2 separate regions of the Homo sapiens genome follow, and region 2 is linked to region 1. A link means that fine-mapping ties the variant in region 1 to the plasma level of a protein whose gene starts in the linked region. Region 1 holds a variant in brackets. A gene starts in the other region. All regions are shown on their forward strands.

The links. PIP is the posterior inclusion probability: the model's chance that the variant is causal. Protein levels are from antibody-based Olink assays in UK Biobank. Linkage for the fine-mapping came from a reference panel and not from the study's own genotypes, which makes the PIPs less certain.
Region 2: NPPB starts here. The variant in region 1 is fine-mapped to the plasma level of the NPPB protein (UK Biobank, PIP above 0.99).

What each region holds. Positions count from the first base shown.
Region 1 is chr8:105,328,584-105,344,496 of GRCh38, forward strand. The region is part of intron 1 of ZFPM2 (zinc finger protein, FOG family member 2); the gene reads left to right. Among named protein-coding and RNA genes, the nearest start is that of ZFPM2, 18 kb to the left of the region's middle. The variant T/A (reference allele first, on the strand shown) is at 7,086.
Region 2 is chr1:11,851,493-11,867,405 of GRCh38, forward strand. NPPB (natriuretic peptide B) reads right to left here and starts at 7,453. Exons shown (of 3, transcript NM_002521.3): 1 at 7,210-7,453; 2 at 6,722-6,977; 3 at 5,972-6,179. The coding sequence starts at 7,341. The coding sequence ends at 6,163. RefSeq lists silencers at 7,852-8,018, 15,801-15,913.

The sequences.
Region 1 (15,913 bases):
ACCTAGATTTGGCAACAGCATTGAAGGTTTAAACATGTTTTTTCCAAGACTGTTGTCAATATAAATAGATTAAATGGCTTTTAATTTTCTAAGTTATTTTTATTTATTTAGGATAAAACTGTCTGAATTTGTATTGTGCACACTTACCAATCAGTTCTTCTTTCTCTTCTTGAAGTGACATTCTCAAATTCTCATTTTGGTAGCCTTTCTGCTTACATTGACATAAAAATAACCAGATTTTCCAATGCTGTTTGACTTGTACATAAGTACTCTTGCGTTTTTTGGAAATATTGGGCCTCCCACCTCCAAATGAAGACTCAGTGTACAGGGGAGACTGACCAACCTGGGACTTGAGTGAATCTGAAATATTCAAGTGTTCATTTGCAAATATATTAGGTAGCTGCTAAAAATATCACCCCACTTCTTAACAATGTGCATCTTGGACAAACAGGCACATATTTTGTCATCAAGTTGCTTAAGCTTCTGAAGTCAGGGCTACAACTGGGTCAGATGATAAGATGAGCACAACAGAGAAACGAAGAGAGCGTCTGATAAAACCTGATTGATTGATGTCTGGCTTCCCCACCATCACAGGCAGTTGACAGTTAGTTTGGGATCAGATGATTTGGCTTTTGCGATAGAAGATGGGGCCTGGTAGGCAAGCCTGAAGGACAAAAAGGTCAGTTTCTGTGTAGTGTCAAGTAATGTCGAGCTCCCACAAGGTGGGACATTATTAATATTTCATTCTTTCTCTTTTAGGTCCAGGTCCTAACATTTGATAGTCATTTAAAGGCATGAAGATTCAGTCTACAAACAGAAATGTGTGACTACTTCCATGTTAATTTAACTTAATGTTTTTACTTTGTTGATATGATAAAGGATGAGGGCATATGCTCATTTCATAACTAAATCATATTTCATATTATACTTTGCAATATATAATGACTTTTTGCATATTTTATTGTAATCTTATGGGGTAAAGAGCTACAAAATGTCATAGCACTTAACCTGGCCAAATTTAATATTAAATTTAAACTTTTTGAAGAAATATAGGTTTTCTGGGATGAAAAATTACTTCGTAAATTAATCTAGAGTTATCAGTCCAGCTGCTTGGGAATTATAGGTTCTGAGAAGCTTAGGTTAAAAAGTATTCTAGTGCACAACACAGACATGTCAGAGTTTGGGGAAACCTTGGTTGGCACAATGGGAGAACTTTGTACAGATCCATAGTTAGTGAATGATTGTGCTGTAATTAATTTGCTGAACTTGAATCTTGTTGGTTGGTGATGAGATTATTAGAATGTTTCTTTGCATTTTAATAATGGAAATCCCCAAATTCTTGACACATATTCAAATCACCTTTAAAAAAATCTGTATTTGCTTGTTTTTTTGCTATGATAGAAAAATGTTGTAGAACACTTCTGAGTTTGAACATAATTAACAGGATAAATGTTCTTGGAAAGAAAGGAGGAAGGCAAGCAGGCAGGCTGGCAGGCATAAAGTAGAATAGCTAGTTTTAGAATAAAATGGTTTCCAGTGTTAGCCATAAAAATTAGTACCACTGTGACAGAATTGGAATTTGGACAGCCTGCATTTGAATTTAGATTTAGGACAGTTTGATACTCTCTAGAAATCCTCTATGATGTATCATTTTTCTCTGAGTTTTAAGGGTCAGATCTCCAAAGGACAGTTGGGTCTCAGCAAATGCTGTAGGCTTAATATCAGGAAGGTGAATTCTGCAAGGTGCTGTATTGCTGATAGTATAAGTGGAATATTGCCTGAAAACACTTGTGCCAGAACCTGAAGTGGTACTCATGATAAGTCATCAGGGAAGGTGAACCGATCACCATTTCAGCAGTAATTAGTAATAGGTCCAAGAAAAGTGCATAAGAAAATGACCTAGTTTCTTCTATATAGATTTATATGGAACAAAACAATTTCTCTCTCTCTCTCTCTATATATATATATACATATATATATATATACATATATATATACATATATATATATACATATATATATATATACACATATATATATATATATATACATATATATATATATATTTTTCAGGAATAGTGAGGAATCAATAAAGTTATGGTTTGAAAAACTTTTGCAGAAAAGATGGTTCAGGCAAATGGTGCTGACCTTTACTGATCTTGTTTTGATGGTTACATTGCTGATGGGAGTCTGGTAATATTATTTATTGATGGTAGCTAATAATGGTCAATAATTTTGTTACATGAGAGAAAAGAGAAAACAATTGAATTTTCCTTGTAAAATCGCTGTGTAAGTCTGTGATACATTTTTCAGTTTTACAGTTAAAATATTTTAAGGCAGTGTCACAATTGTCAAATGCCAATTGCTTTGATAGTATTTCAGTTTTTTTGTGTGTATCTGTGAACAACTCTCTAAAGGTTAATAACCTGTTTTTTGGTGTTCACACACACACACTTAATATTATAGAGTATCTAATACTTCATGTTCAACCCTTTTCTCCCATTATTTTTTTTGTTTGTTGTTTCTTTTGTTATTCCATCTGGTTTTGAACTGGGTATATATTATATTTTATATATATATATTATACACACACACACACACACACATATATATACACCCAGTTATATAATAAATAATTATGATCAACAATTCTTACAAATGGAAAAAAAGAATCAGGGAGCTGGCCAGCTAGACTGCAATTCTATGATTAATCCTCCAGATTCAGAAATCTCATTTAAGGAAGAGTATGAGTTTGGGATGCAGTGGCTGGACTGATGAGTCTGACATTCACTTTGATGTTCTTTGACTCTTGGTTTGGAAGTTTTCATTTTGGAGAAATAAGAACAAGGAGGTTCCGGTATGGGATGTTACTAAGGTACGTGTTAGGGGATTTGTTGTTTCTATACTGTGGTTAGTACCAATGTACTTTATGTAGAGAAATAATCTCTTATGTATTACAGGAGGTGAAACAGATGTTAACAGCATATTGTTCCTACTCTCCTAAGAAAGAAACATGATTACATTTTGAATGAAGGATTTTTAGGTTAGGGTCTATAGGCTTTGAAGAGTTTGTGAATATCCACACATTTAATGGAAAATTTTATGTATTCATGAATTTTTCTAGGAAATGGTTTTCATGAGCTTCTCAATGGGCTTTACAGCCCTATCAGAACTTTAAGAGGACTCTAAGGAATTGCTATATAGACATCTATATGATCACTTATTACATTTTAAAAGGTAACAATATAAAATAGGAACAGTTTCATTTTTATTTGCCAAAATGATTTTTTTGAAAAACATAAAGTCAAGTCATATCACTTCACCTCTCTTCCAGTGGACATCCCTTTGCAAATTAATACCTAAACTTTTGATCATGGACTACCAGATCTGTTCCTTATGTCTGACCTGATCACTAAGCATACTATTGTTATGTAGCACTTCCCTATCCAACTCCTACCCATAAACCACTTGCAGTCACTACATTTTATCTTTATGGGTCTTTGTTCTGTTCCGTAATCATGCCAAGCTGCCTGTCTTCCTGTTCTTTTCCTAGATTTCCGTATGGCTGGCTTCTCATTCACTTCTTACTTCACATGTCAATTGTTCAGAAAGGTCTCTTTTAGCCTTCCCATTTAAAGTTGCCTCAGTTTGCTCTCCAGCCCATAACTTACGTATTTGTTAGATTATTTACTTGTTTATTAGTTGACTTTGTACTAGAATGTAAGCTCTCTGGGTGTGTGACCTAGTCTTGTTCACTTCTATAACTACAGTTGCTAGAAAAATACCAGGCACATAGCAGATGCTCAAAGAGTAGTAGATTAATGAATGAATGAAAAATTTTTTTAAAAACCCACATAATTTCCTGTGATATATTTTTAAACAATTTTGCCCCAAGAAAAGATTGTTACCTATATGTGTTAAATTTAACTTACATGAAAACTTCATTTAATATTCAATAAACAAACATATAGTAAGTACTAATTTTGTGTACCATGTTAAGCCATGGGGATGGGGCAAATACAGACCATGGTCTCTCCCTTCAATTAGTGCATTACATAGTAAGTACACTATGATTTAATCTTGATAGATAGAGGTATAAATTGCTGTGGGCATTGAGGTTCATAAGCGCGTCAGGTTAAGCCTCTAGGATGAGGTCCTATTTCAGCTGGGTATTGAAGGAGGAGTGGGAGATGTAGTCATGACAAGAGGGAATTGTATCCTGGCAGAAACAATAGCTTGGCCAAGAGGTTAAGGAGCATGGTATTTTCAAGGTCCAGTGAATAGTTGTGGCCAAAGATGAAACTATGTGAGTGACAGAGCATGCATCTTGAGAGCTGATTTGGGGCCAAACTTTTAAAGGGCTTTGTGTGCCATGTTGAAGAATTTGAACTCATCCTTTAGGTAATTGATGGTCATTGCAGATTTTGAAAAATAGAGCCTGATCAGTGTATTTTGTATTTGCTTGATAATTGCTTTGATCCTACCAAATTCCAATTTGGAAATGGAAGAGGACAAAAAACAAAACAAAGCAAAACAACAACAACAACAACCTCTGAGCTAACAATGGGCTTCAGTTAACTTTCATTTTGTGAAGTTTAACAATTATTATCTTGAATTCAACCTTAGACCTTCTGTGCTACCCTCTAACTTTTAGATACGGATTTAATAACAACATCGTAGCTGATGGCTAAAACCATCACTCAGTGCTTTCAGTAGTTTAGTATGAATATTTTATTGAGGCTAGACAACACATGCAAAAATGAATGAACAGAGCAGTATCTTTTTAATTGAATCTGTTTGTGCTTAACTCATGAGATCGTCTTTGGTAGTAGCTTTCCATTCATTCATATGCATTAGCTTAGTTTTATAGCTGCCTATCGAGAGGCAAAAATGTTCACTAGCAAGAAGGCAAAGTAATTGTTACTGGGATTGCCAATTGTTGCAACCTCTTTGAAAGACAGTCTGGCATTTTATAGCAATTAAAATTGCACATATACTGTTTGACCCAGCAATTCTACATATCCCATAGAAACCCTCATATGTGTGCTCATTACAGCATGGTTTCTGATAGCAAAAAATTCGAAGTCACCTAAATGTCCATTAATAGGGGATGGGTTAAATAAAATTATGGTATAACCCTCTCAGGTGTTGTAAAGGGTAAGACAGATGTGTTCATGCTGATATGGAAATATCTCAAAGACTCGTAAAATGAAAAAAAATCAGTATGGCATGTACCTATTTGTAATGTTTTTGAAAAGAAAAATGAATAGATATTAGATATGTTTTTCATAAAAATTTTTGAAAAAATATGCAAGAAATTGTTGATGGTTTCTTTGGGAATGAGGTCTGAGAGTTTATGGTAGCACATAGACTCTTTTTTCACTGTATGCCTCTTAATATTGTTTTCAGTTTTTAACCAAATATAATTTTAATAAGTTACAAATTAATACCAATAATTAAAAAAATAAAATGTATACATTGTGGAATGTGAATGTCAGTATTTTCATACCACTGCCATTACTGCTAGTAATAAACTGTGTGTGTGTGTGTGTGTGTGTGTGTGTGTGTGTGTGTGTGGTGGGGGGAGGGGTTTGGGGCCAGAAAATCAGGTAATATTGCCATTATAATTATGTTTTCAATTATTTGTCTTCCCTTAGGTTGTGTAGTTGAGAGGATAGAAGTGCTTTTGGGAGTTGGGAAGAAAGTAGGGCACAGAAAAATATTTTATGGAATATTTTAATATCTCTCTAATTCAGACAATATGGGAGAGAATAGCTATAATGATAAATGTTTCTATAGTTATCATTCAGTTTATATGAGAATATACCAAAAGTGAGCACTCAAGTGAAGATTATGCTCACTTTTACTTTAGAGAAAGAAATAATGCAGAGAAAAAGGTTTTAAATATATTACCTTTTAAAGTATAGTATTTCTCTACTCTCAGCAGCATAGGTCATGGGTGTATTATTAACCTCAGATTAATAGTGTATGATAGTTTGGTTTTAGATAAAAGTTCTATTCTTTAAAATTCAATGTATTCATTTAGGCCCTGTTATACAAAAAGTTTATCTCCACGATGTTGTTTTCCTGAGTTCAGAAATTTTTTTCTGCCCTGCCCGAAAGAGTTCATCTCTCACCCCTATCAAATGTTTTGCCTTCTGAGTGATTTTAAGATGCTTATTTTTATACATATTATTATATGCAGACATAGTTTTAAATTGGCCCTGGGCCCAATGTGTTGCTCTTTTTCGTACCTTATTAAGGATTTTTTTATCCTTGAAAGTCTTCCAAGCTATCTCAAGTGTTCTCGTGGGCAGTAGCAGCAGCAGCAGCAACAGCAGCAGAAGGAAATGAAGGAGTACATGGAGAGACCAAAGCTTAGAGTGTCAGTGGGGTTTGAAAGGATGCCCCTGAATAAAATAGAAAGGTTTTAATTCATAAATGCCAGCATAAATACCCCCTGATAATTATGACAGAGTGGAAAGAAAATTAAATATGTTGAATTTTTGTCAGATAATTTTGAAAGTGGACATAAGGTTAGGAAACAAATAACACACGGAGTTGAGGGAAATTATAATCCGAAAACAAATGAAATATTTGTTTCTCTCATTTGAAGGAACCTAGAGCCTAGGAACATTAATGCAACTTGAGAAAGGTTGTTTTTAACCGTGGAGTCTCTTAGCATTTTCAGCCTCAGTGGAATATTATAGGACCATAAGGTCAGTTTTATTTAATTCATTCTCATAGATTCTGAACAACCTAGGTAGTGCTGAAGATTTTATTGTATTTTGTAATTTACATTCTGAGTTTGGACAGAGGTGCTACAAGGTGTATGCTACTGTAAGTAAATTCATCTGATCAGTGGCATTATACAATGACTTTATGCAAATGGAGAACTAATTTTTTGGGAAAAAAGTTAATCTCTTGTGGTATGTCTTGCCATCAAGAATTCTATTCCTAAAGACCCAAAGAAGTAAAGGAAAGAATCAGAGGAAAATGAACCCAAAGTGCATCCAGTCCCTGGCTCCCATGTGGCCAGCTGATGTTCCAGCCATCAACTGTTGAAAAGCTACAAGTGGTTTTCA[T/A]GATGATAAAGTTAGTGGTCAGCACCAAAAATAGATCCAGAGCAAGGCCTAGTAGAATAAATTACTGAAGATGATCAAGTTAGAACTACCTCTGCTGAGAAGGCTACACAAAATTTCTGGGATAAAGAGTAATGAGGATTATTGATGTTACTAGGATCCATCTTCAGAATTGGTTGGCCTGCTACGTGCAGCGTATTCTGATCAAATGGTGCTGCCCCTCCCTAACCACCCTGTGGAAATGTATTAGCCCAGAGGTCTGACTGTCCTGAGAAATAGCGTTGCAAGCTATCTACTTGAAAATGAGGATGTAGGTAACTTACATGTTAACTTTACATTGCAAAATGCAGTGGCTGCCTATCCGATGGCATTTGAATGGATGTACGGCACAAAGTCATATATTTACGTTTTAGAAGGGGATTGAATTATACAATCATTCTTTAGAGAAGGGGTATTGTTATAATGTTTCAGAACTCTGGAGTCTTTCATTGGGGTTCACGTTCCTGCTCTGCCACTTCCTTGTGTCGTGTCCTTTTAGCATGTTATTTAATCCGTGACTCAGTTTCCCCATTTGTAAAGACGAGGTTATTAAGGAGAGCTTATATAAGGGCTGTTGAGAGGATTCAACGAGTTTACACATGTAAATCGTTTAGAACAGCACCAGGTATGCACTGATAAACTTTTCTAGATTATTAGTATTTTTGAGGTCAAATCCATGAAAAGAAATTGTTCTCTGGTAGTGGTAAATATCCTCAGGTATTTAAAATATAATTTTAAAGGTCTTTGGTTTGCATGTTTTAATTGACAAATATTTAAATGAAGTATTTTTTGGTAAATATTGTTTGTAGTTGACGTAAGTTTTATAAAAAGATCTTGTTGAATACTCTAATTGAATAATTTTGCTCAAATCACCCTAAAGTAATTTTAAAAGGAATAAATACTTTATTCCCAATGAGGAAAATATTTTGAGCTTCACTGGGAAACGCTTTATAAGATAGATTGATATTAAAATGTAATATACTCCACACACACACACACACACACACACACACACACACACACACAGACATATACATGCAGACATACACACTATATATATGACACACACATTATAGATGTAGATATAGATGTATAGATATAGATATCTATAAACCAGTAAATGTTTTTACAAACTCTGAAATCTGTTACAGATCACTTCGTCTCATTTTTTGGTATTAAATAACACAGGGTGCTTTGGTTATACTAACCATTACCAGAAAAAGTGAGTAGTTAGTTTTTGTTGTTTAGTTGTTGTATTTTTCCAGACGGTTCTGGAGTTAATACATAAAATTCCTTTAGAAAGATCCTGACTGGAGTATCTCAAAAGATCATCGAAGAAACCAGTTGGTGAAAATGCATTTGGATGACCTGAACACATAGTTGTTGTGTCTCTAAATCCCAGACATACTTTATTAGGACAATCCAGCTGGTTTGCTATTTCTATCTCATCATTATCAACACGTTATGGTATGGCCTCTTCCCCCTCACTTCCAATGCCAAGAATTTGGCAGGGACACCATGTTAGCAAGTCAGAGACTGGGGGTGGGGCAAGACAACAATAGTTTCACACTGCTGCAGGGGTAAGGAATATGTGTTTTCTAAACATTTTGCTACTGGGTTAAAATTGATAATAGATATTTTTAGTCTCTTCACTTGAGGAATTTGAAGAAATAAAATTTCACAAGTCTCTAGAAACCCTCTTAAAGAAACATTTTCTTTATCCTAGTTCACACTTTCATATACATAGAATTTGGTTGTAAATCTCAAAGTTTCAAAATTCTTTGCCTTTCTCCTCTTTCCCACCCTTGCCAATATTACAGAAACTCAAGAAAGTGAGAGAAAGAAAACTATTGTCCCTAGGTCTTATTTCATAGTTTACATTATGAATAATAAGTCAATAACTGAATATCATGTCACATTTTATTATTATGTGTGTGACCTTATTAGTGACCTTAACTATCGTCTTCTAATGTATTAGAGCATAGAGAGAACAGAGATGAAAATTCTTTTTGGTCATAGTTCATAATTCTTTTTGGTCATAGTTCATGTTTTTTTTTTAATTTAGTGAAATGAAAAATAATCAGATGAGGATTTTCCTGACAGTTTTATAAGACTGCAAATTTTGTGAGTGAGTTAAGCTCTTCCAAAGTTATATTACAACTTCACATAAATGTAGATTCTCAAAATGATAATGGTCATGTAAATGTTCTTCAGTTATAAGTATATATGTAATTTTGTGTGCTACAAATTGGTTTCTAACAGATCTCTTCCATTAGAAACTCTCTACATTCATTAGGATGACTCATGAAATATTTTCTGTACTTTGTTAAAAAGTTTTAAAAATAATCTCAAATTAAAATGATTTATTTACTTTTAAAAACTCATGAGTTATGCTTGTATAGCAACCTAAAGGTTTTTTATGATATCCCATGATGTTATTACAAAACATTAGGTTTTAATAAATAAAGGTCCACCTTTATTTTTCACTATGCATAGAGATATTTATGATAAAATGAGTTACTTATGACCTCTTCCTTCCAAATAGGGAAAAACTACATAATGATATGCTTTGTTCACATATATATTAAATTCTTTTTATTCTATTTGACTCTTTGATGCATCTCATACATAGGTCAGGCACCTGAAAGACAGCAAGTATGAACAATATCAGTAGAAACTTAGTCATTTAGAAATTGATACCTAGAGATCTTGTTTTATAATGCTCTTTTCTGGTCAGGAAAAATAAATGTTACTCTATAAGATAACTTTTGTTAAGTCTTTACTAGCTTATTTAAAATATAGTAATGGGTTTTCATTTTTAAAAGTCTCAGTTAAATAAGGCAAGAATTTCATAATCTGAGAAAGGAATAAAGCCATTAGTGAACAAATATCTGTCCACAGCTTTTAGTAAAGAGAAAAATATGTAACCTTTTGTGCCATTCACTAGAGCAGATTTGTGCCATCAGTACAGATGTGAGTAAAAACTCAGCTTTCTCTTAAAGCCTCAATTCCTTGAAGTTTTATCATCCCAAGGGAAATGAAAGAGTTGTCTGTATGAATTTGCATGTGTCTTACCTTAAGGTTGTAGTAAGGCATATTGAATATACTGGTAGGACATTGAGATTTTACTGTGGGTAGAAAAAAAGAAGAATGCAAATTAAAGTAGCAATGGTTTATTCACAAATTAAAGAAACAAATTGTTCCCCTGGGTGCTTCCTTAATTGATGAAGAGTAAATAAGTAGGACACTGTTAACTAGACCAGCAGAGTGGGGCAGGCATATCTCTCAGGACTGGGGTTAGAACCTCAGGCTTTCTAAGTGTGAGGGATTTGTAAATGAAGCTACTTTGTTACTGTCAGAATTAATATGTGGATAAAAATCTATGTTTTCAAAGCTCTTACAGCATTGTTTTGTATTCTTTATTTTTAAAAGTAGTTTTATGTTATTTTTGTACTATTAACATTCTACACTTATGACATTTCAGCCCCCTCACTACCGACACCGAACAATAGAACTGCTTCAATTAAGAAACAGAACATCAGCCCCTGGCATCTTATTCTGTTGTTCCATCTTTTTTTGCTAGGGAGAATTCATTTGTTTCTTAATTAAGAAAAACACCAATAGCATGAAAAATCTGCTTATGGTACCTGAATGGTAATTAGGCAAAAGGTAAAAAAGAAACATGCACATACATTCCAATAGCAGCCAAAATGAACTGGAGCTGATAAAAATGAACTACACTACCCTTGCATAAATGGAGGCTGAGAGAAGTGTACAGTCATTATGGCTAAGACAATATGCAAACTATCTTCAAAGAAATCAAATTGCTAGAGTGTTTTCATTTGCATGTATTAACTATTAACATAATGAGGAGAAGTGACATTGGACCCGGATTGTGTGTCTGTTCGGATTGATAATTCGACTGCATCTGCAAACAGACGCCCAAAAATCATGCTAGTAGTTAGATCAGAGTTGAACTCTGCAATGTGGGCTAAAACAAAATCTAGAGTTTGACAAACCTGCTGAGCTACTGAATGGTGAATGGTTGACATCTCTCTCATTCACGTTGTGTCTCATTCATATTCTCTCTCTCGCTCTGCTTTAATTTAATTTTTAAAAACAATATTCTTTTAGTCCAAAAACTTACTTTGAGCTTTAAAGCAGCAAAATTGCCCTTTGGAACTTCTTTGTTTTCGTTAGTGCGAGAATATAAGAATTGATGCCATAAAGGAGATCTTAAGGAATCATAGGGTTAACTTAAGGTCTGTTGTTACAGGATTTGAAAATATTGTATTTTCGTTTATTTCCAGCAAATATAAATCTAGGAATAAAGGAAACTGGCATTTATTGAGCTTCTCTTATGTGGAATGCACTGTACAAAGTGTTTTTCATGAAAGAAAATGGAAGGAGTCGTTGAGAAAAATGAAGGAGCCATTGCAATGAGAAACACCTCTAGCCTTTTAGATAACCTCGATGTTATCTAGACTCACTGAGCTTCTGGCTCTTAGTTTTTTCTCACCTGTAAAATGGGCCAGTATAACTACATTTGTGTTTCCTATTCTAAAAATCTTTGAGGTCAGTAGCCAATTTCAATGTTCTTAAAAGCCTTGGGGAAATTGGAAAATCATCACTCAGAAACGTACCCATAACAACAAAAATGCCTTATTTATTTAGGAGTCATGGGATTTATCACACAATCAGATTACATTTGCTATTCCATGCTGGTAAGAAACTCTGGCAATCATATACATTTTTGACTAATTTTAAGAAGATAAATCTGAAATACATTTCTTGATTGTAGAATTCCTACTTTTAATGTCCCTGAAAATCAGAATATAGCTTACTTTAAAAGCAATAAATCCATTTAATGTAGTTTTCTTTTTTTGTAAAAAGTATTGATGTGTCTTGTTAATGATGGAGACTTCTAATTAATAAATTTATTTTGTATAGTTTTATTTATATTAACAAGTACATATTTTGATCTTTCTTTGAATCTACCTGGCACTGTTCTATGTACAGAAGTCAGTGGTGCACTAGGAAGGTAAGATCTCTGCTTTCACAGAACGTACATTCTAGAGGTTGGCAACAGGCAATAAACACAATAACTCAGTGAATGTGCAATGCAATTTCAGATTGGCATAAGTATACGAAGAAAATAAAATAGGGTAACGTGACAAAGAGTAACTGTTGGGACTGCCTGACAATGATCTGTTAGACACAAATTTCCTAGACTTAATGCTGTTGATGGGAGACATAAATTAATATCTTTCTTTGAAAAATGGAGAGGAACCACTGTCAAGGGTGAGGGGACAAATGTCCCCTAGAGACTCTCATCTACCCCATCCCCTAATGGCCCAGCTGAACCATATTACCTTTTGAATGGTGTAAAGCCAGGAAAAAAGCAGATGTGTCAGAAATGGAGTTAAGTTGGGATAATGTAGTTACTAAGGTAGGTATAGAACATACCCTCGTGGGGCTTCCACTCTCTAAAAGATGCACAAATCCGTCCAAAATAATTATATTGGCTCTCAGGAAACTCAGTCCAATGCACTTTGATTTTTCAGACATGTCATTTATTTATATGATATTTGCATTTTCAACAAATGGAGAACAACGCAATTGCACTGACAATGACATGATTCTGTCCATATTATGGGAGTGAATTTCTATCACAAAATATTGCATTATGATATTATACAATATATGTAATATTAACAATGTAATACTTTATTATAATACAATAACATTAAAAATATATACTATTACTGTAAGGTAACAATGCAATATATATTATGCATGTGGCAATACAGTATGTATGTTACTGTAATGTTAACAATATAACATTATTGTTGATATATGCAATATTAACACAGTTGATATATCCTCATTTTATATATATATGTATTTCCCTGAATGAAAATTTGTGACTGATTAGATTAAGTGATAAGTACTGGCAATTTTTATTGACTTTCAATACTACTGTTGTAGTAGCAGTTGGTGAAACTTTTAGGGTTGAAGCCATGTTACTTCCCTTTTAACTTCATTTTAGATAACATGTATCACTGCTAATATCCTTGGATATATGTGACCTTAGAACCCTGTGGAGATTCTTGGGAACCTGTGGTGAACACAAAGCATCTAGAACATTCTGAAATGTTATAGTTTTGTACTCCAAGCTAAAAGTTCATTGGGCTTTTGTGGAATAATTTATTCACAGGTTGTTCATCTGGAGATGGCTAAGTTAAATGCCTGGGCATTTGCTAGTATTAGTGAATGTAAACCTCTGCTCAGGGAGAACGTGAGTTGGGCATAAAAGCAAAACTCCAGTTGCATAAAGGATTTTGATACTTCTGAAGATTTCTAATATGTGTCTTCTCAGATAGGAATAGATGAGTTGACAGTACTCTTTGAAGACATCTCTACACTTAATAATGCCTTATTGCTCTCTTTTCATGAATATGGAGATTATAAAGAAACCTGTTTCATATTTAAGTGATAAGTTAACCTTTCTGCCACATATGTTGGTTATAATGTCAAAATCTCCTTTGAGAAAGTCAAGTTGATGAGCTGTGCTGAATCATTCATTCAGATTCAGCCCACAAGGATTAAGAGGTGAAAGCAGGTATTGTCATATTCTCATAGAAATTACCTAAGAATTAGTTAGCACAGTTGCTCTAGGAGAACTCTTGAAGAATCCTTCTCTTGATGGAAGGGCACAACTGAGCACAAACTGGGTAATTTGAAATAAAAAGACTCAGAGCAGACGGATTCAAGAGGAATGTGTGAGACATTCGGATGCTCACTAACATTAATGGGACATTAATATTTTCACTTGGATTTGCCTATTTATCTAAAGAAAAGAAAATAAGCTATATAAGACAGCCACAGAGAAAAGACCAAAGAAACTCATAGAGGGGAATGCAAGTTCTTAACTTATATTTACTTTAAATTGAAAACAACAAAATTCTCCTAAAACAAAGCAAAAGAGAAAATATAAGAAAAAAAGAAAAGAAAAAATAAAACTTGCTTTCCCTTACCAATTACAATTTTGTTGATTCTGTTTGAAAGAAAAACATCTAATTTCACTTTTACAAACTATTATTTGTTTTTCTGGATATGAAAATAGCAACATATGACATAATAGATCTCTAGGTTTCTTAGTAAACTCTGTCCAATGCCTGTCATACTAAACTCCTAGGTCTGGCACATAAAACCAAAAAAAATAATAATAAGTATAACAATCTTCTGGAGGCAGACTCAAGTGCTTAAGGCTGAGAGGGGACATACTACATGCCTGAAAACATTGAGTTATTTTTATTTAAATGGCTTTTACTATGGTTCAGTGGGAAACATGAATTAACAAGATCAGGTTGCAAAGCTCTGTGTAGGCTGGAATGATACCCTAAAACTGTTGGTGAACATTTAATAACAATATAGATTTTGGTTTAAAAAATCAACTTTATTAAGTACAGGATGGGAAAATGAACTTTATTTGCTGCTAAAATGAAAACTTCATAGGTGTTTTAGTTAACTGAGTCTTCAGTGGAAGTTGCATTCCAGAACCATTCTGCAATGTTCAACAATTGACAGGAGTCCTGCTGTACTTTGTACTGGCCAGTCACATCTTGGGTATTGTGTTCAATGTCATATCCTCCTTAAAACTCAAGTATGTCTGGAGGTGAACCCCCAGGATAACAGTCAGGCAGTAGCTGAAGGAATTGGGAATGTTTAATAGGAGAAGAAAATTCTGGGTTTTTTAATGAGAGCTATATTCGGATATCTGGAGAACTCCTATAGAAAAGGAATTAGCTTTCTTCCTTGTAGGTCAGAAGGAAATAATTCCAGAGGGTGCTCTGGGTCTACATTCTACTCACTGAAAGCACTTTTGAGCTCAGCATCAGTAAAATAGCTAGAGCTGTTCAAAATGGCCCAGCCTTCTTTGAGGATAGAAGACTACCTTGTCACTGGAAGCATGGAAGCGAAGGTTTGCCTGGTTAACCACTTGCTACATTTATTATTTAGTAGATCCTTGGAATATAGGAAGTAATGGCAATTAGAAAGTTGGGGTAAAACAGGAGTAGGTTTCTGAGTGATTTAATATTCTAGATGGGCCCCAGAATGTTTTAAGTTTCTTTCATTCAGTTCAATTTTAGAAGGATTTAGTTGGTACCTATTGTATTAGTCCATTTTCACATTGACATACCTGAGACTGGGTAATTTATAAAGAAAAGGAGGTTTAATGGACTCACAGTTCCACATGGCTGGAGAGGCCTCACAATCATGGCAGAAGATGAAGGAAGAGTAAAGGGATTTCTTACATGCAGTGGGCAAGAAGAGGACTTGTGCAAGGGAACTCCTCTTTATACATCTATCAGATCTCATGAGACGTATTCACTATCACGAGAACAGTACAGGAAAGACCCGCCCCCATGATCCAATTACCTCTCACTGTGTCTGGCCCACAACTCATGGGAATTGTCAGAGCTACAGTTCAAAATGAGATTTGGGTGGGGACACAGCCAAACCATATCACCTATCAAATCCTTATTATCATTATTGTATAAGCAACAACCAAATCTTCTGGAAGCTAAACAAGCTGTCAGAACTCTCAAAGCCTTGGGAGGGGCTCAAGCAGTACGTTCAGCTGGTCTTATATTTTTACAAAATATGCAAAATTAAAATATTTTAGCTGCAATTTTTTAGGACTGCTAATTCTTCCCACTTTGACATTCCTTCTGCCACAATTCAGAATGACCACAGGCATTATTAGGTTCTTGGGAATATAATAGTCT
Region 2 (15,913 bases), not on the chromosome of region 1:
CACAGTCTCTTTGTTACCTAATCTCAGAAGTGACATCCCATTCTTCATGTTGTACTGTTCTGTGTCCCTTAGAAGTGAGTCTCTGGGTCTCACTCACACTCTAAGGGAGGGGGTTACAGAGGGTATGAAGACCAGGAGGTTGGGGATCTCTGGGGGCCTTCTGAAAGCACTGCCCACACAAATAGAGAAGGAAGGAAAGCAAATGTAAGGTGACATTGGCTGAGTGCAGTGGCTCATGCCTGTAATCCCAGCACTTTGGGAGGCTGAGGTGGGTGGATCACTTGAGGTCAGGAGCTCGAGACCAGCCTGACCAACATGGTGAAACCCCGTCTCTACTAAAAATACAAAAATTAGCCAGGCATGGTGGTGTGCACCTGTAGTCCCAGCTACTCGGGAGGCTGAGGCAGGAGAATCATGAAGGGCAGGGCTCTGCAGGAAGGTTGACTTATTTGGGAGTGTCTTAGTTTAAGTTCTCTTGAACCGGAGACAGATATTCCAGTATTAGTGGCTGATCTTGGAGACAAACCCAGGAAATGTCAGTGGAGAGTGGGGAAGTGATACAGAAAAAGTAGAAGTCAGTGACCACCTCTGGCAGTAGGTGCTTAATCCTCCTCCCACAGAGAACTCCAAACAGGTTCTCTGTTTGGAGAACAGAGACACATGCCACCTATGACTCAAGGGAGCTGGGTGTTTGTTTTATTTTATTTTATTTTATTTTATTTTTGAAACAGAGTCTTGCTCTGTCACCCAGGCTGGAGTGAAGTGGTAATTTCAGCCTTGACTTCCCGGCTCAGTGATCCTCCCATTTCAGCCTCCCGAGTAGCTGGACTACAGATGTTCACCACCATACCCGGCTAATTTTTTTTCTTTTATTTTTAGTAGAGACGAGGTCTCTCTTTGTTGCCCAGGCCGGTCTCGAACATCTGAACTCAATTTATCCTCCCACCTCAGCCTCCCAAAGTGCTGGGATTACAAGTGTAAGCTGCTGCACCAGGCGTGAGCTGGGTCTTTAAATGCCAACTCCTGGCCAGGTGCAGTGGCTCACACCTGTAATCCCAGCACTTTGGGAGGCTAAGGTAGGAGGATTGCTTGAGGCCGTGAGTTCAAAATCAGCCTTGCAAACATAGTGAGACTCTCCATCTCTACAGAAAAAAAAAATTATTTTAATTAGCCAGACATGGCAGCATACTCCTGTAATCCCAGCTACTTGGGAGGCTGACGTGGGAGGATCGCTTGAGCCCAAGAGTTTGAGGTTATAGTGAGCTATGATCATGCCACTGCACTCCAGCCTTGGTGACAGAGCAAGACTCTGTCTCTATTTAAAAAAAAAAAAAAAAAAAAAGCCAGCTCCTGTCAGATGTTGGTTGAGCACTGCTCAGGTCAATGTCAATTCCCCAGCACTTCCTGCCGGCCCCAAGGAGCTGAGTGGGCTGCGGCTGCCAGAGAAAGTTCTTAGGCAGAAAAGTGCAGTGCTGCTGGATGAAAGGATTGATGTGTGCTGAAGATCAGGGGCTACGGGCCTCTGCCGTGCCCGAAACGGGACAGCTAGAGGCAGGAGAGTGGGAGCCAGTGTCCAAGGGCAGATACTGAGTTTGGTTCTAGAAACGCTTAAGGCAGCTGTATGGGGCAGGCTCCAGACCCCAAGGGAAAAATGGATCACTTGGTGGAATAAGACTGATTATTTAAGCTAAGGCAGTGGATGAAAAATCCTAGAGAGAGGCTGAGATCTACAACATGAACAAAGACAAATGGCCAAGTTCATGTCATGGTTTAGACCCAGCTCTGCAGGAAGAGAAATGCATTTTTTTTCCTTGCCACAAATCATTCTCAGAAAGGCCAAAGCAGGTGGGGCACGGTGGCTCATGCCTGTAATCCCAGCACTTTGGGAGGCCGAGGAGGGCGGATCACGAGGTCAGGAGATGGAGACCATTCTGGCTAACACACTGAAACCCCGTCTCTACTAAAAATACAAAAAAATTAGCCGGGCGTGGTGGCGCACACCTGTAGTCTCAGCTACTCGGGAGGCTGAGGCAGGAGAATTGCTTGAACCTGGGAGGCAGAGGTCGCAGTGAGCCGAGATCGCACCACTGCTCTCCAGCCTGGGCAACAGTGAGACTCCATCTCAAAAACAAAACAAAACAAAACAAAACACAACAACGAAGGGTCAAATCAGCCATAAGAGGGAGGGAGAGGGGCTCAGTGTTCCTTGAGACTATCCCAGGTGCAAAATCACGGACATGAGATGAAGCTTTCAGGCCCAACGTTGTCCTGACTTCTGTGACTTCAACACTGAAGACCTGAAAAAAACCAGTTCACTCTCTATTGAAGCTTCTTGCAGCTCTGAAGCCATGGACTAAATCTCCTCAGTCTGTTTTCACCAACACGTCTTTCTGGAAAGATTAAAATAACAAGAGTCCGGGTGTGGTGGCTCACGCCTGTAATCCCAGCACTTTGGGAAGCCGAGGCAGGCAGATCATTTGAGGTCAGGAGTTCGAGACCAGCCTGGCCAACACAGTGAAACCCCGTCTCCACTAAAAATACAAAAAGATTAGCCAAGTGTGGTGGTACACGCCTCTAGTCCCAGCTACTCAGGAGGCTGAAGCAGGACAATTGCTTGAACCAGGGAGGCAGAGGTTGCAGGGAGCCAAGGTTGTGCCACTGCACTCCAGCCTGGGCAGCAGAGCAAGACTCTGTCTCAAAAAATAATTAATAAATAAAAAATAAGATAACAAGCGTAAGGCTGGGCACAGTGGCTCACACCTGTAATCCCAGCACTTTGGGAGGCCAAGGTGTGAGGATTGCTTGAGCCCAGGAGCTTGAAACCAGCCTGGGCAACCTGGTGAAACCCCATCTCTACAAAAAATTAAAAGTAAAAAAAAATTAGCCAGGCGTGGTGCATGAGCCTGTGGTCCCAGCTACTTGGAAGACTGAGGTGGGAGGATTGCTTGAGCCTGAGAGGTTGAGGCTGCAGTGAGCTGTATTCATGCCACTGCACTCCAGCCTGAGCAACAGAGAACTCTGTCTCAAAAAAAAAAAAAAAGAAAGAAAGAAAGAAAAAAAAAGTGTCTATGGAGATAAATCATTTGGCAGCTTCTTTGGGAGACAAGGTTGGTAACGGGGAGTCAGGGAGGTTAAGGCCATGGCTACAGCTACGTGGGGAATGGTTAGGGAGGGCTGGTTTTAAGGGCATCTACATGCGGTGTGTGTACCACAAAGCTGCCTGCAAACACCAACCACGTGGAGAGCTTGATGAGATGTCACTCACTGGGTACAGCAGGCGGCCCGCTACCGCTACCCAGCTCCAACTGTCACATTTGGCTCCTTCGCAGGTCACTTTGGGGTCCTCTTTCCTTGCTTAGGGAAAGGACCCAAGTAACAGGATGTATGGTGTGTACAGCCTCCACCATCTGAGCCCCATTTATGGATGAGCCAGACTCATCTGCAGGAATTTGAAAGTGCTGGCTGGGTTTGGGGAGTATTTTGGGAGGGGTGTGTCCTCATCACCTGAGCAGAGGGGAAAGGCCACCAGCAGGCAGTGGCCCAGATGTTGAACTGAGTGATGCCACCAGGAGGGGGACCTCCATCCCACCCACAAGCCTAATTCACTGGCTTGGAAAAAGCTGGGTGGGACAGTGGTTAGGGGTACGGGTCCTCGAATCTTGGCTCTGCCACTTGCTAACTACATGACATTGACAAGTTATATATCTCTGTGCCTTGGTTTCCCCATCTGTAAAAAGAGGGATGTAAGAGTTTTAACTCCAGGCCAGGAGCAGTGGCTCAAGCCTGTAATCCCAGCACTTTGGGAGGCCGAGGCGGGTGGATCACTTGAGGCCAGGAGTTCGAGACCAGCCTGGCCAACATGATGAAACCCCATCTCTACAAAAAATACAAAAATTAGCTGAGGGTGGTGGTGCATGTCTGTACTCCCAGCTACTCAGGAGGTTGAGGCGAGAGAATCGCTTGAACCCGGGAGTCAGAGGTTGCAGTGAGCCGAGATTGCACCGCTGCACTTCAACCTGGATGACAGAGTGAGACCTGTCTCAAAAAAAAAAAAAAAAAGAAATTTAACTCCTTCATTGTTGTGAGGTCTATATGACTGTGCCTGGTACATGAATGAGGCCTTTATGAATATTAACTATTCTAATTACTCATTGCTCTCCCCGGTTTGGAAGCATTAGACATGACTCACAGTTGGTGGAAAAATAAGCTGCCCCTAAAACCTCTTTTTTATTTCTTTTATTCTCTTTTTTTGTTCGTTTGTTTTTTGAGATGGGGTCTCCCTCTGTCACCCAAGCTGGAGTACAGTGGCACAATCACAGCTCACTGCAGCCTCCCCGCTTCCAGGCTTAAGCGATCCTCCCACCTCAGCCTCCTGAGTAGCTGGGACCACAGGCATGCACCACTACACCCAGATAATTTTTTTCATTTTCATTTCTTGAAGATATGGGGGTCCCATTATGTTGCCCAGGTTGGTCTTGAACTCCTGGGCTCAAGCCGTCCTTCTGCCTCGGCCTTTCAAAGTGCTGGGATTACAGTGTGAGCCACTGTCCCTGGCCTAAAACCTCGTTTTTGAACAATTTTTTTTTTTTGAGATTATGGAGTTTCACTCTTGTTACCCAGGCTGGAATGCAGTGGTGCAATCTTAGCTCACTGCAACCTCCACCTCTCAGATTCAAGCGATTCCCCTGCCTCAGCCTCCTGAATAGCTGGAATTACAGGCACACACCACCATGCCCGGCTAATTTTTGTATTTTTAGTAGAAAGGGGATTTCACCATGTTGGCCAGGCTGGTCTCGAACTCCTGACCTCAGGTGATCCTCTGGCCTCGGCCTTCCAAAGTGCTGGGATTACAGGTGTGAGCCACCGCACCCAGTCTAAACAATCTTAATTGATGTCATTAGATATCCATAAATCCTCAGATGCACACTGGGTGAAAATGATAAATAACACAAAGTTCCACCCTCTAGGTCACTCTCATTCAAAGAAACATCTGATGAGAACATCAGAAAAGACTTGAGAGTGAAGTTCAAGGGCAGGAGTGTGGGGCTCAAGAGTCAGAGAGCACAGGCTCAAGAGTCACCTGGATCTCCGCTCAGTTCCCACACCAGCGCTTAGTCGCTGTGTGCTCTTGGATAGGACGCTTGGTTTTCCAGGGTCTCAGTTTTCCCGGGTCTCAGTTTTCCCATTTGGAAAATGGACATAATAATAGTGGACCTCATGGTGCCTTACCCCTCAGCTGAGCTGGAATTATAAATGGCATTGTGAGAAAGCGAATGACATGAGGCCCTTCCCAGGAATCTGAAAGGAGAGGAACTCAGCACTGCGGAGGCCTGGATTGCAGGGTGTGTGGGAAGGGGACCCATAGGAGAGACAGCCTCCCCACTGGTTAAGGCAAAGAGAAGAGATGATGCAGCCCCAGGGGAGGGGCACCCTGGAAAGCTGGGCTGATTGCCAGACCCCTCTCACTTTGTGGGTTGGAGTTTTGAAGGCTCCTTTGCAGGATGACCCCAGGAATTGGAGTTTCAAAGCTGATATTTGGGGCAGGATGGAGGGCTCACCCCGGTATGGGAATGTAGATGAGCCACACCCACACACACTGCCCCCAGTCGTTGACATTTTAGCTGAGACCTGAAAGCAATAATCCCCAGGGAGAGTGCTTTAATGGTGGAATTCCAGGCAGAGCAAGGACGAGTGGAGAAAACGGCTGGATACGTGCCCTCAGGTTGCACACGTATCCTGCCCTGCTTTGAAAAGCAGTTTCTCCCAAGTGCCTCAAGTGCTTGAGATATTCAATAACATTTCAGAGCATTAAAAACTCTGAAAGAAAAGAAAGCCTGCTACCTCTGAGGCCACATCCTCATCCCACCATGAAGATGCCTTGAGATCACAGGGCTTTGTGGTTTTAGTTGGGTTGGTTTCTTTGAAATGAGGGATTATTTTTAATGCGCCAAGACAAATCAGTTTCAAAAGATAAAGCTTATAATGTTGACTTTATTTCACCGTGGAAATTTTGTGCTCAAAGGTAAGAAACCATCTTATATAAAACAATCAAATAAATACATAAATACATTAAAAAAATGAGTCACTTCAAAGGCGGCCACAGGGTTGAGGAAAAAGCCCCTTGTGGAATCAGAAGCAGGTGTCTGCAGCCAGGACTTCCTCTTAATGCCGCCTCAGCACTGTCAGGGAAAGAGAGAGGGTGATGATGGTTAGGGTGGGAGATGGAGGCAGGGGCTGAGCTTACCTCATCGTGTGCCACCCACCACCCTGTTAGTCATCAGACGTTTGAGGCTTAATGCAACTCTCTGAGCCTCAGTTTCCTCATCTGTAAATTGGGGATTATCATTGCTCTGGTGATCCTGCTCTCTGCCTTTGAGACTATAGACAGTTTAGAGGAAACCAGGAGGAAATGTTTGGTTCTCTTTCTGCACCACTGGGGGGCTGCCAAATGATAAACAGACCCCCAAAGGAGATTCTGCCCCTTTGATAAGAAGTAGGAGGTGGGGAGAAGGTATTGTGGGCATGGTAATGAAATAAGCCCACATTTACTAATTCCACAAAGGCACCCCTTGGCCCTGAAGGCTGTTAACAAGAGGAAGCGATGTCCAGGTGACCTTTTCTCAAAGAGTGTGGTTCCCAGAGACAACAAACCCCAAAGTGACTCTAACAGTGTCACACACTGGAATGGGGGAAGGCGGCCGGGGTGGCAGGGGGTGCTTACCTTTGCAGCCCAGGCCACTGGAGGAGCTGATCCGGTCCATCTTCCTCCCAAAGCAGCCAGACCCTTGCACCATCTTGGGGCTTCGTGGTGCCCGCAGGGTGTAGAGGACCATTTTGCGGTGCCCACGGATGCCCTCGGTGGCTACCTCCCGGGACTTCCAGACACCTGTGGGACGGGGGCTCTCCTGGAGGGGCTCCAGGGATGTCTGCTCCACCTGCAGCTCCGACAGTTTGCCCTGCAAATGGTTGCGCTGCTCCTGCAATGAATGGGGGCGTCCAAGCCTCAGGGACCCACCCCTGGGCTCACCAGCCCTTCATGGCACCCAAGTGAACCGACTGCCTTGGGTACAGGGTCAGGGCACCCAGTCTCTCCATTTTCTGATTCCTTTATCACTAATTCCAAAGGAAAGATGAGGGCCTCTTGGGACAGCAGGTGAGGACCCTTTCATTGCTGCTGTCCAATCCCCCTGAGCTGCCCTCCGCTCTCACCTGTAACCCGGACGTTTCCAAGTCCGAGGCTGAACCGGGGCTGCCCAGCGGGTGGGAACGACCTCCCAGGAAAGCCAGATGCAAGAAGAGCAGGAGCAGGAGCGCCCGGGAAGGTGCTGTCTGGGGATCCATGTCTCTGGAGGGACTGCGGAGGCTGCTGCTGCTGCTTCTGCTGCTGCTGCTGCTGCTGCGATGCGTCCGGGTTTGCTTCCCACCTGCCCTCAGCCTGCGGGGTGCTCCTCCTGGCTCCTCGGGACACCGTGGCCTTTTATCCTGGAGCTGAGTGTCGGGCCTGCCCTGCCATGCAGGGTTATCTCTGATTTATCAGCCACATTCCGGGCCTCTGAGATCAGGGCCCGGGAATGAGCCCCTCCGCGCCTGCGACGTGGGAGGTGGAGACCGGGCAGAGCCGACCTTGTATAGAAATGGGCCGGGTCGGGCCGGGGGGCAGGAACGCGCTGGAGACACAGACAAGTCCCCGTCTCCCGCTTCTTCCTTTCCTGCAAATGTCCAGGTGTCCTAGGTTGGCGCTTTCTTCCTGCCTCCCCACCCCACCGTTGCTGGAAAAGGCAGGGAGGACCCCGGCTTTCCGAGGACCGACGTGAGCGCGGGGAGCACGGGGTGACTCACAGCGAAAACAGCCCCGGCCAAGACCCCGCCACCCGCGGCGCCTCTCCCCTCCCCGCGCGAGTTCCCTGGCCCGCACGTAGCGCAGCACCTGCTCGCCGCTGTGCACCCTGCCTGCCTGCGGGTCCTCGGGGGCGCCCTGGCCGCTGTCCGTGGTGCTGATCACCCCGAGGGAACTTGGAGCAAACTCTCAAGAGCTGCTCTCTTCAACGGGATTTTCAGGCCAGAAAGACCTGCGTGGAGCAAGGACAAGAGACCTCCGAGACCTTTCCCTATGCTCTCACAATCCGCCATCTTATAGTCCTTACAGCAACGGGATGCTGATTCCCCAGTGGCAATTCATTAAAAGCCTGGGTATGACCAGGAACTTCTGGAATGCTGACCCTTCTTTCACTCCTTAAAGGGAAGAGCAGATTTCGCTGGAATTTTGAGAGATAGGGTCCAGTGATGACGAAGTCACCCAAGAATGCCTTATATGTGTGTCCTCCACGTGTCAACACCTCCTCTCCCCCACCAAGCCAACACAGGATGGAAAACAAAAGGATAGGCTGGGCATGGTGGTTCACGCCTGTAATCCCAGCACTTTGAGAGGCCGAGGCGGTCGGATCACGAGGTCAGGAGATCGAGACCACGGTGAAACCCCGTCTCTACTAAAATTACCAAAAATTAGCTGGGCATGGTGGCAGGCGCCTGTAGTCCCAGCTACTCGGGAGGCTGAGGAAGGAGAATCACTTGAACCCAGGAGGTGGAGGTTGCAGTGAGCTGAGATCACGCCACTGCACTCCAGCCTGGTTGACAGAGAGCGAAAAAAGAAAGAAAGAAAGAAGGAAAGAAAGAAAGAAAGAAAGAAAGAAAACAAAAGGATGGCTGGAATGATGGTTATCTATTTGCTGGGATACCAGAGATATGGGGATTTCCCCTCTCCCAGTGCCTCCTTCATCTGACCACCCATGATCTAATTATCATTAGCAGGTGGCCTGGTGATTAGAAGTGAGACTTTGGAGAGAAATGCCCCTGAGAAGAGTCATAGCAGCTTAAATACCCCCCTAAAGCATATATGACTGATGTCACTCCCCTTCCAGAGAATTGGTGTCAACAAGCAGCAGGCTGGAGGAGTGGAGCTGTCTATGAGGGGAGAAGAGTTACAGCAGAGAAGGGCAGCAATAAGAAACTGGGACCTCTAAGCAGATCTTGCCTAAAAAATAGCATCTGCCCCTGAGGTGAGAAAAGCACGGTTATTATTCCTCACTTCAGAGGAGGAAATGGTGTTCATGAATTAATCTACTTTCCAAAAGTCACACAATTGACACATGATAAATCCTGGATTCTAACCAGTCTGATTAGTCTAGCCAGCAGTCTGATTCCAGACCTGAAGCTCATAATCACTGCCAGGGTGATCACAAGGTGTTTCTACAAAAAGCAAGCTTAGGTGAATCCCGTGTCATCTATGAAGGCTCTGGGAGCTGTGCTGTGGGGGATGTGCAATTCTAGTGGTGACTGTGTGTGCAGGAGAAAGAATGGGAAGTGGCTCAGATGAGCATTTTGCAGATGAAATATAAATGGAGGTGGGTGGGTAAGGGCTGTGTAAAGACACCAGTGCTGGAAATGTTCTGGGGGGCTGGGGTAGTTTTGTGTGTGTGTGTGTGTGTGTGTGTGTGTGTGTGCGTGCACATGAGCATGCCACAGTAAGAGTATCAAAAGGCTAAGAGGAAGCTAAAGAGGTAAGAAAATTCAGCCAAGTGCAGAGGGGAGTCAGTGGGCGAGAGGCTGCTGAGGGTGCAGAAAGCCCCTCATGCTGAGTACCATGAGATAAAGGGTTCAGAGCAAGGCAGGATTCATCAACCAGCACCATCAAAAACTGACTCTGCATCTCGCCAGAGCCTCACTTTGCTCTTCGGCAAAATGGACAGTCCTTGCAAGGACTAAAAGGAAAAAAATAATATCTGCAAAAGCCCGTGGCACTGTATAAAGGGCCAAATAATTAGTAGTACATGAGAGTTGGTCTTTACACTGAAGGAGATTGTGATCTCACTGGGGAGACAAAGTGACCCCAAGTGAGACAATTAAGTGTCTAAGTGTCATACACTCTGACAGAGTTTCTATCTGTCCCCAGTGGAGGGGACTGTGGAAGAAGACTTGAGGAAGACACAGAACTAGACACATCCTCCAAGGCCTGCTGTCCAGGGAGGAGGATATGTTGTCAACTAACTCTCACACCAGATCAGCCCCATCAACATTTATCGAGGGCCTGTCATATGCTATGTGCTTTCCAAGTCTATTTAATGAAGCTAATCATAACACCTCTGTTGGAGCATTAATGTACAAGGATTAAATTTGATGATGTCTGTGGTAAGCTGAATAATAGTCCCCAAAAGATGTCCATATTCTAATCCCCAGAATCTGCGAATATACTACTTTACATGGTAAAAAGGACTTTGCAGGTGTGGTTAAGTTAAGGACCTCAAGGTGGAGAGATTCTCCTGGATTATTCAGGAAGGCTCAATGTCATCACAAGGGTCCTTATAAGAGGGAAGCCAGAGGATCAAGGTCAGAGGGACAAAATGTAAGGATGGGAACAGGTCAGAGAGGAGAGAAGAGACTACACTGCTGGCTTTGAAGATAGAGGAAGGGGCCATGAGCCAAGGAATGTAATCAGCCTCTAGAAGTTGGAAAGGGCAAAGAAATGGATTTTTCCCTAGAGCTTCCAGAAGGAATATGGGCCTGCCAATACCTTAGTTTTAGCCCAGTGAAACAGATTTCAGACTTCTGATGTCTGGAACTGTAAGAAAATAAAATCATGTTCTTTTAAGCCAACAAGCTTGTGAGACTTTGTTTCAGCAGCAATGGGAAATTAATAGAGTATATGTCAAATGCCAAGCATAGTGTCTCTCCCATAGTAAGCCCTCAGCAAATGTTGTTATGGTAGAAGTATTGGTTCCCCACCACCATCCAACTCTAAGTGCTTAATCTGGCCACACAGAAAGAAATAAGACCCTTAAGTCATTCAACAAACTTTCACCGAGACCCTGGGGTCACAGTAGCCCAGACCCAAGACTGAAATCACAGTCTGGGCTCAATTTCACATCAACTTCTTGCTACCTTTGTGTGTTGGGCAAGTTGCTTCCTCTCTCTCCTTGTTTTCTCATGGCTACCTCATAGGGTTGTTGTGAGCATAAAATGAGACTGTGCAGGTTAAAATCTAATATTTCTGCTGGAAGGTGGGGATACATAACGGACAAGAAAGTCCCTGCCATTGAGAAGCTTACAGTGCAGGGGGAAAGGTGGGCACAATCACAGGCTCCCCAGGCTGCCACAGTGAGTGACAGATACAGTGGCAGTGAGTCCTGGATGCTCTGTGAGCACAGCAGGAGTGCGCAGTCGAGAAGGGAGTTTGTTGGAGAAGGTGGGGCTGGGCTAAGGCTTTGAAGGATAAGAATGAGTTAGCCACAAGAAGGAAGATGGAAGATGGGGAGGGCACTCTGGGCAGAGCAGATGCACAAGCAGAGGCTAGAAGGGCTGGTTAATGGATCAGCTACCACCCCTATGCTCTCTGCAGAAGGAAGAAGCTGTGCAGAATACAAGGTTTGACTAGTCAGAGAGTAGGACTCCAGCTGCAAGATTTTTCTGTAGCTTCCCTCTGGCCTCAATCTCCAGTCTAGTCCTGGGCAGCCAAAGTGGATGGTATGAGAGCACTGGGCACCTGGGGGAAGCAAAGGAGGAAACAGAGGAGCACTGACCCAGGAGGCAGGAGGCAGGCTCGTCTCTGCCCGTGGCTGACTCACGGTGTGGCTCTGTTCCAGGGATTCTTTTTTTTTTTTTTTAATTTTTTTGAGATGCAGTCTTCCTCTTTCACCCAGGCTGGAATGCAGTGGTGCGATCTCAGCTCACTGCAACCTCCGCCTCCTGGGTTCAAGTGATTCTCCTGTCTCAGCCTCCTGAGTAGCTGGGACTAGAGGCACGTGCCACCACACCCAACTAATTTTTTATTTTTAGTAGAGATGGGGTTTCACCATGTTGGTCAGGCTGGTCTCGAACTCCTGACCTCAGGTGATCCGCCTGCCTCTGCCCCCCAAATTGCTGGGATTACAGATGTGAGTCACCGTGCCCGGCCTGTTCCGAAGATTCTGCTCGGTTTGCTTCTCTGTTCTAGGATGGTTTCCCTTTGTGTAGAGTGAAAGGATTAGACTAAGGTTTCTGCCAGGCACAAAAGCCCTAGTTGTAATAAGTCAACTCACCCTATATATATACTATACACATTTTTTTTTGAGACAGAGTCTCACTCTGTCACCCAGGCTGGAGTGCAGTGGGGCTACCTTGGCTCACTGCAGCCTTGACTCCCCCAGGCTAAAGCAATTCTCCTGCCTCAGCCCCCTGAGTAGCTGAGACTACAGGCATGCACCACCACACCTGGCTAACTTTTAGAAATTTTTCATATTTTTTGTAGAGACAGGGTTTCGCCATGTTGCCTGGGCTGGTCTTGAATTCCTAAGCTCAAGTGATCCTCCTGCCTTGGCCTCCCAAAGTGCTGTGATTACTGCTGTGAGCCACCACGCCTGGCCAGCTTACCAGCTTACCCCATTTTATAGGTGAGATTGCTAGCTCCCACTTCCCCAGTAGTGCCTCTGTCTTCTGTGACCCTTAGACTTCCTCCAAAAGCCAGAAACCACCTGCATAGGGCCATCAGGCCCTTCACAGCTGTGGCAGACATGCAGGTGTGCACACAAGTGTGTGTGTGTGTGTGTGTGTGTGTGTGTGTGTGTGTGTTAGGGGGTGCTTTGGAAACCAGCATGGGTCTGTAGACCTTCTCTGCTCTTGAAGTAAATCTCTAGACATGGTTAACAGAGGGAGGGCTGTGCTTGGCAGCTTGAAAGAAAATAATTACTAATTCCCACCACTCAGTCTGGTGTGGTGGTGCACACCTGTAATCCCAGCACTTTGGAAGGCCCAGGTGGGAGGATTGCTTGAACCCAGAAGTTGAAAGCCAGCCTGGGCAACATCGTGAGACCCTGCCTCTACAAAAAAAAAAAAAAGAAAGAAAGAAATTAATTAAATAAAATAAAAAATAGCCGGGTATGGTGGTGTCACCTATAGTCCTAGCTACTTGGAAGGCTGAAACGGGAGGATCACCTGAGCCCAGGAGCCCAGGATCACCCCACTACACTCCAGCCTGGGCGACAGAGTGAGACCTTGTCTTCAACAATAACAACAATAACAACAATAACAAAACCAAAAACTTCCAACCCTCCATGTCCAGCCTCACCAGCAATTTCTGAGCATAGAAATTACTGTGTGTTGCCAGGTAATATTCTCTCTCTCTCTCTCTGTCTCCCCCGCCCCCCACTTCCTCCCTCCCTCCCTCCCCTTGCTTAGGAACAAGGGACTCTGAAAGGGTCACCTTATCCTTCCTACCACCTCCAGAAAGAACTGTGCTTCACCCATATTTTCCCCATCGCTGGCATTCTGGTGACAGCATTCAAGTCCCTGGATCCAGCAATGCCTGATGTCAATCTACTTTGGACTTTGCAGTTATGTGAGCCAATAAATCTGCCCCTTCGACCTCTTTTTCCCCAAAGCAACTTAATTAGATTTCTGTCACTTCCATTCTAAAGATTCTTAACTGACAGTCTCCAAAAGAAACTGCCTGCCTTTTTCTTAGAAATGTTTGAAAACAAGATATTTCAGCCCTCGATAACAGCCGGAGTCTCAGAGTCTTTGCAGACAAATGTCCTGAACATTGTCTGATTTAACTCTCTCCTTTTGTAATGTGAGTTAGTCCCCTTTGGTCAGACAAAAAGCAGAAAATGTGTTCAACAACCTTAAGGAGCTGGAGAGAAAAATCAGAAGCCTGGCTTTCTTCATGTCTCTCAACAGCAGGGGCATGGCTCAGCAGGTGTGAGGCTGCCGGAGAAAGGATAAGAGGTCCGTCCCAGAATCTCGCCCTATCACCCAGGCTGGAGTGCAGTGGTGCAATCTCGGCTCACTGCAACAAACCTCCACCTCCCGGGTTCAACAGAGTCTCATCCTCAGCCTCCTGAGTAGCTGGGATTACAGGCGTGTGCCACCACACCCAGCTAATTTTTGTATTTTTAGTAGAGACAGGGTTTTGCCATATTGGCGAGGCTGGTCTCAAACTCCCGGCCTCAAGTGATCCGCCTGCCTCAGCCTCCCAAAGTGCTGGGATTACAGGTGTGAGCCACTGCACCCAGCTGAAAGCATGGTCTTAAAATGAATGATGATGATGGGGAGTATTGGAGGAAAGGGGTGGGGGCATCTTCTTCCTCGTTAGTTTCTACAGGATCCATAATTTCCTCCTGTAGTTGTTTGCCAGGGCTGCAGTAACAAAGAACCACAGACAGGGGGCTTGAACAACAGATGTGTACTGTCTATCAGTTCTGAGGACTGGGAGTCCAAGATCAAGGTGTGGGTGGGGCTGGTTCTCCTGAGGCCTCTTTCTTTGGCTGCAGATGCCGTCTCTTCCTGTGTCCTCCCATGGTCTCCCTCTGTACATATCTGTGTCCTAACCTCCTCTTTTTTTTTTTTTTTCTGGATACAGAGTTTCACTCTTGTCACCCAGGCTGGAGTGCAATGGCGCAATCTCGGCTCACTGCAACCTTCACCTCCCGGGTTCAAGCGATTCTCCTGCCTCAGCCTCCTGAGTAGCTGAGATCACAGGCGTGCACCACTACGCCCGGCTAATTTTTGTATTTTTAGTAGGGATAGGGTTTCTCCATGTTGGTCAGGCTGGTCTCAAACTCCCGACCTCAGGTGATCCACCCACCTCGGCCTCCCAAAGTGCTGGGATTACAGGCACGAGCCACTGTGCCTGGCCTCCTCTTCTTATAAGAACACCAGTCATATTGGATTAGGGCCCACCCTAATGACCACATTTCAAAGTATAGGTTGGTGCAAAAGTCATTGTGGTTTTGGCCATGAAACGTAATGGCAAACTGCAATGATTTTTGAACGAACCTGATAATTACCCCTTTAAAGGCCCTGTCTTCAAATATAGTCACATTCTGAGATACTGAGGTTAACTTTTTTTGAGATAGGATCTCACTCTGTTGCCCAGGCCGGAGGACAGTGGTGCAATCATGGTCCACTGCAGCCTTGACCTCCCAGGCTCAAGCAATCCTTCCACCTCAGCCTCCTGAGCCGCTGGACTACAGGCACACACCACCACGTCCAGCCAATTTTTAGATTTTTTGTAGAGACAGGGTCTCCCTATGTTGCCCAGGCTGGTCTCGAACTCCTGGGCTCAATCGTTCTTCTTGCCTCTGCCTCACAAAGTGCTAGAATTACAGGCGTGAGACACCACACCCAGCCAGATTTCAACATACGAATTTGGGGGGACACAGTTCAGTTTGGTTCATTACACCCCCTTACTCCCTCATTTCTGTTCATTGCCACATCTCCAAGGGCCACCACCACTCTCTATTGTTCTGATGATTTTCAATGTCCAACAAACCGCCCCAAACTTAGTGGCTTAAAAGAACAATCACTTGATTGTATCTCGTGGTCCTAGGGGTGGATGAGGCTCAGCTGCATGACTGTCACTTGGGGTCTTTCATGTGGTTGTAGTCAGATGGCGGCTGAGTCAGGAGTCACCTGAAGATTTCATCCATGCCTCTTACCTGGGCTGCAATGGCGAGGACAGATGGAGGCTGGTCCATTGTGTCTCTCTCCATGCAGCCTCCTTGTGTGGCCAGCCTGAATTCCTCAGTGGTGATGGCCTTCCCCACAGCAAGTGGTCCAAAGTGGAAGCTGCCAGTCCTCTTCTAGGAACTGGCCCGGTGTCTCCTTCATCATTTTCTATTGGTTAAAACAGTCACAGGTGGCCAGACGCGGTGGCTCATGCCTGTAATCCCAGCACTTTGGGAGGCTGAGATGGCCAGATCACCTGAGGTCGGGAGTTCAAGACCAGCCTGAACAACATAGAGAAACCCCATCTCTACTAAAAATACAAAATTAGCTGGGCGTGATGGTGCATGACTGTAATCCCAGCTACTTGGGAGGCTGAGGCAGGAGAATCGCTTGAACCTGGGAGGCGGAGGTTGTGATGAGCCAAGATCGCACCATT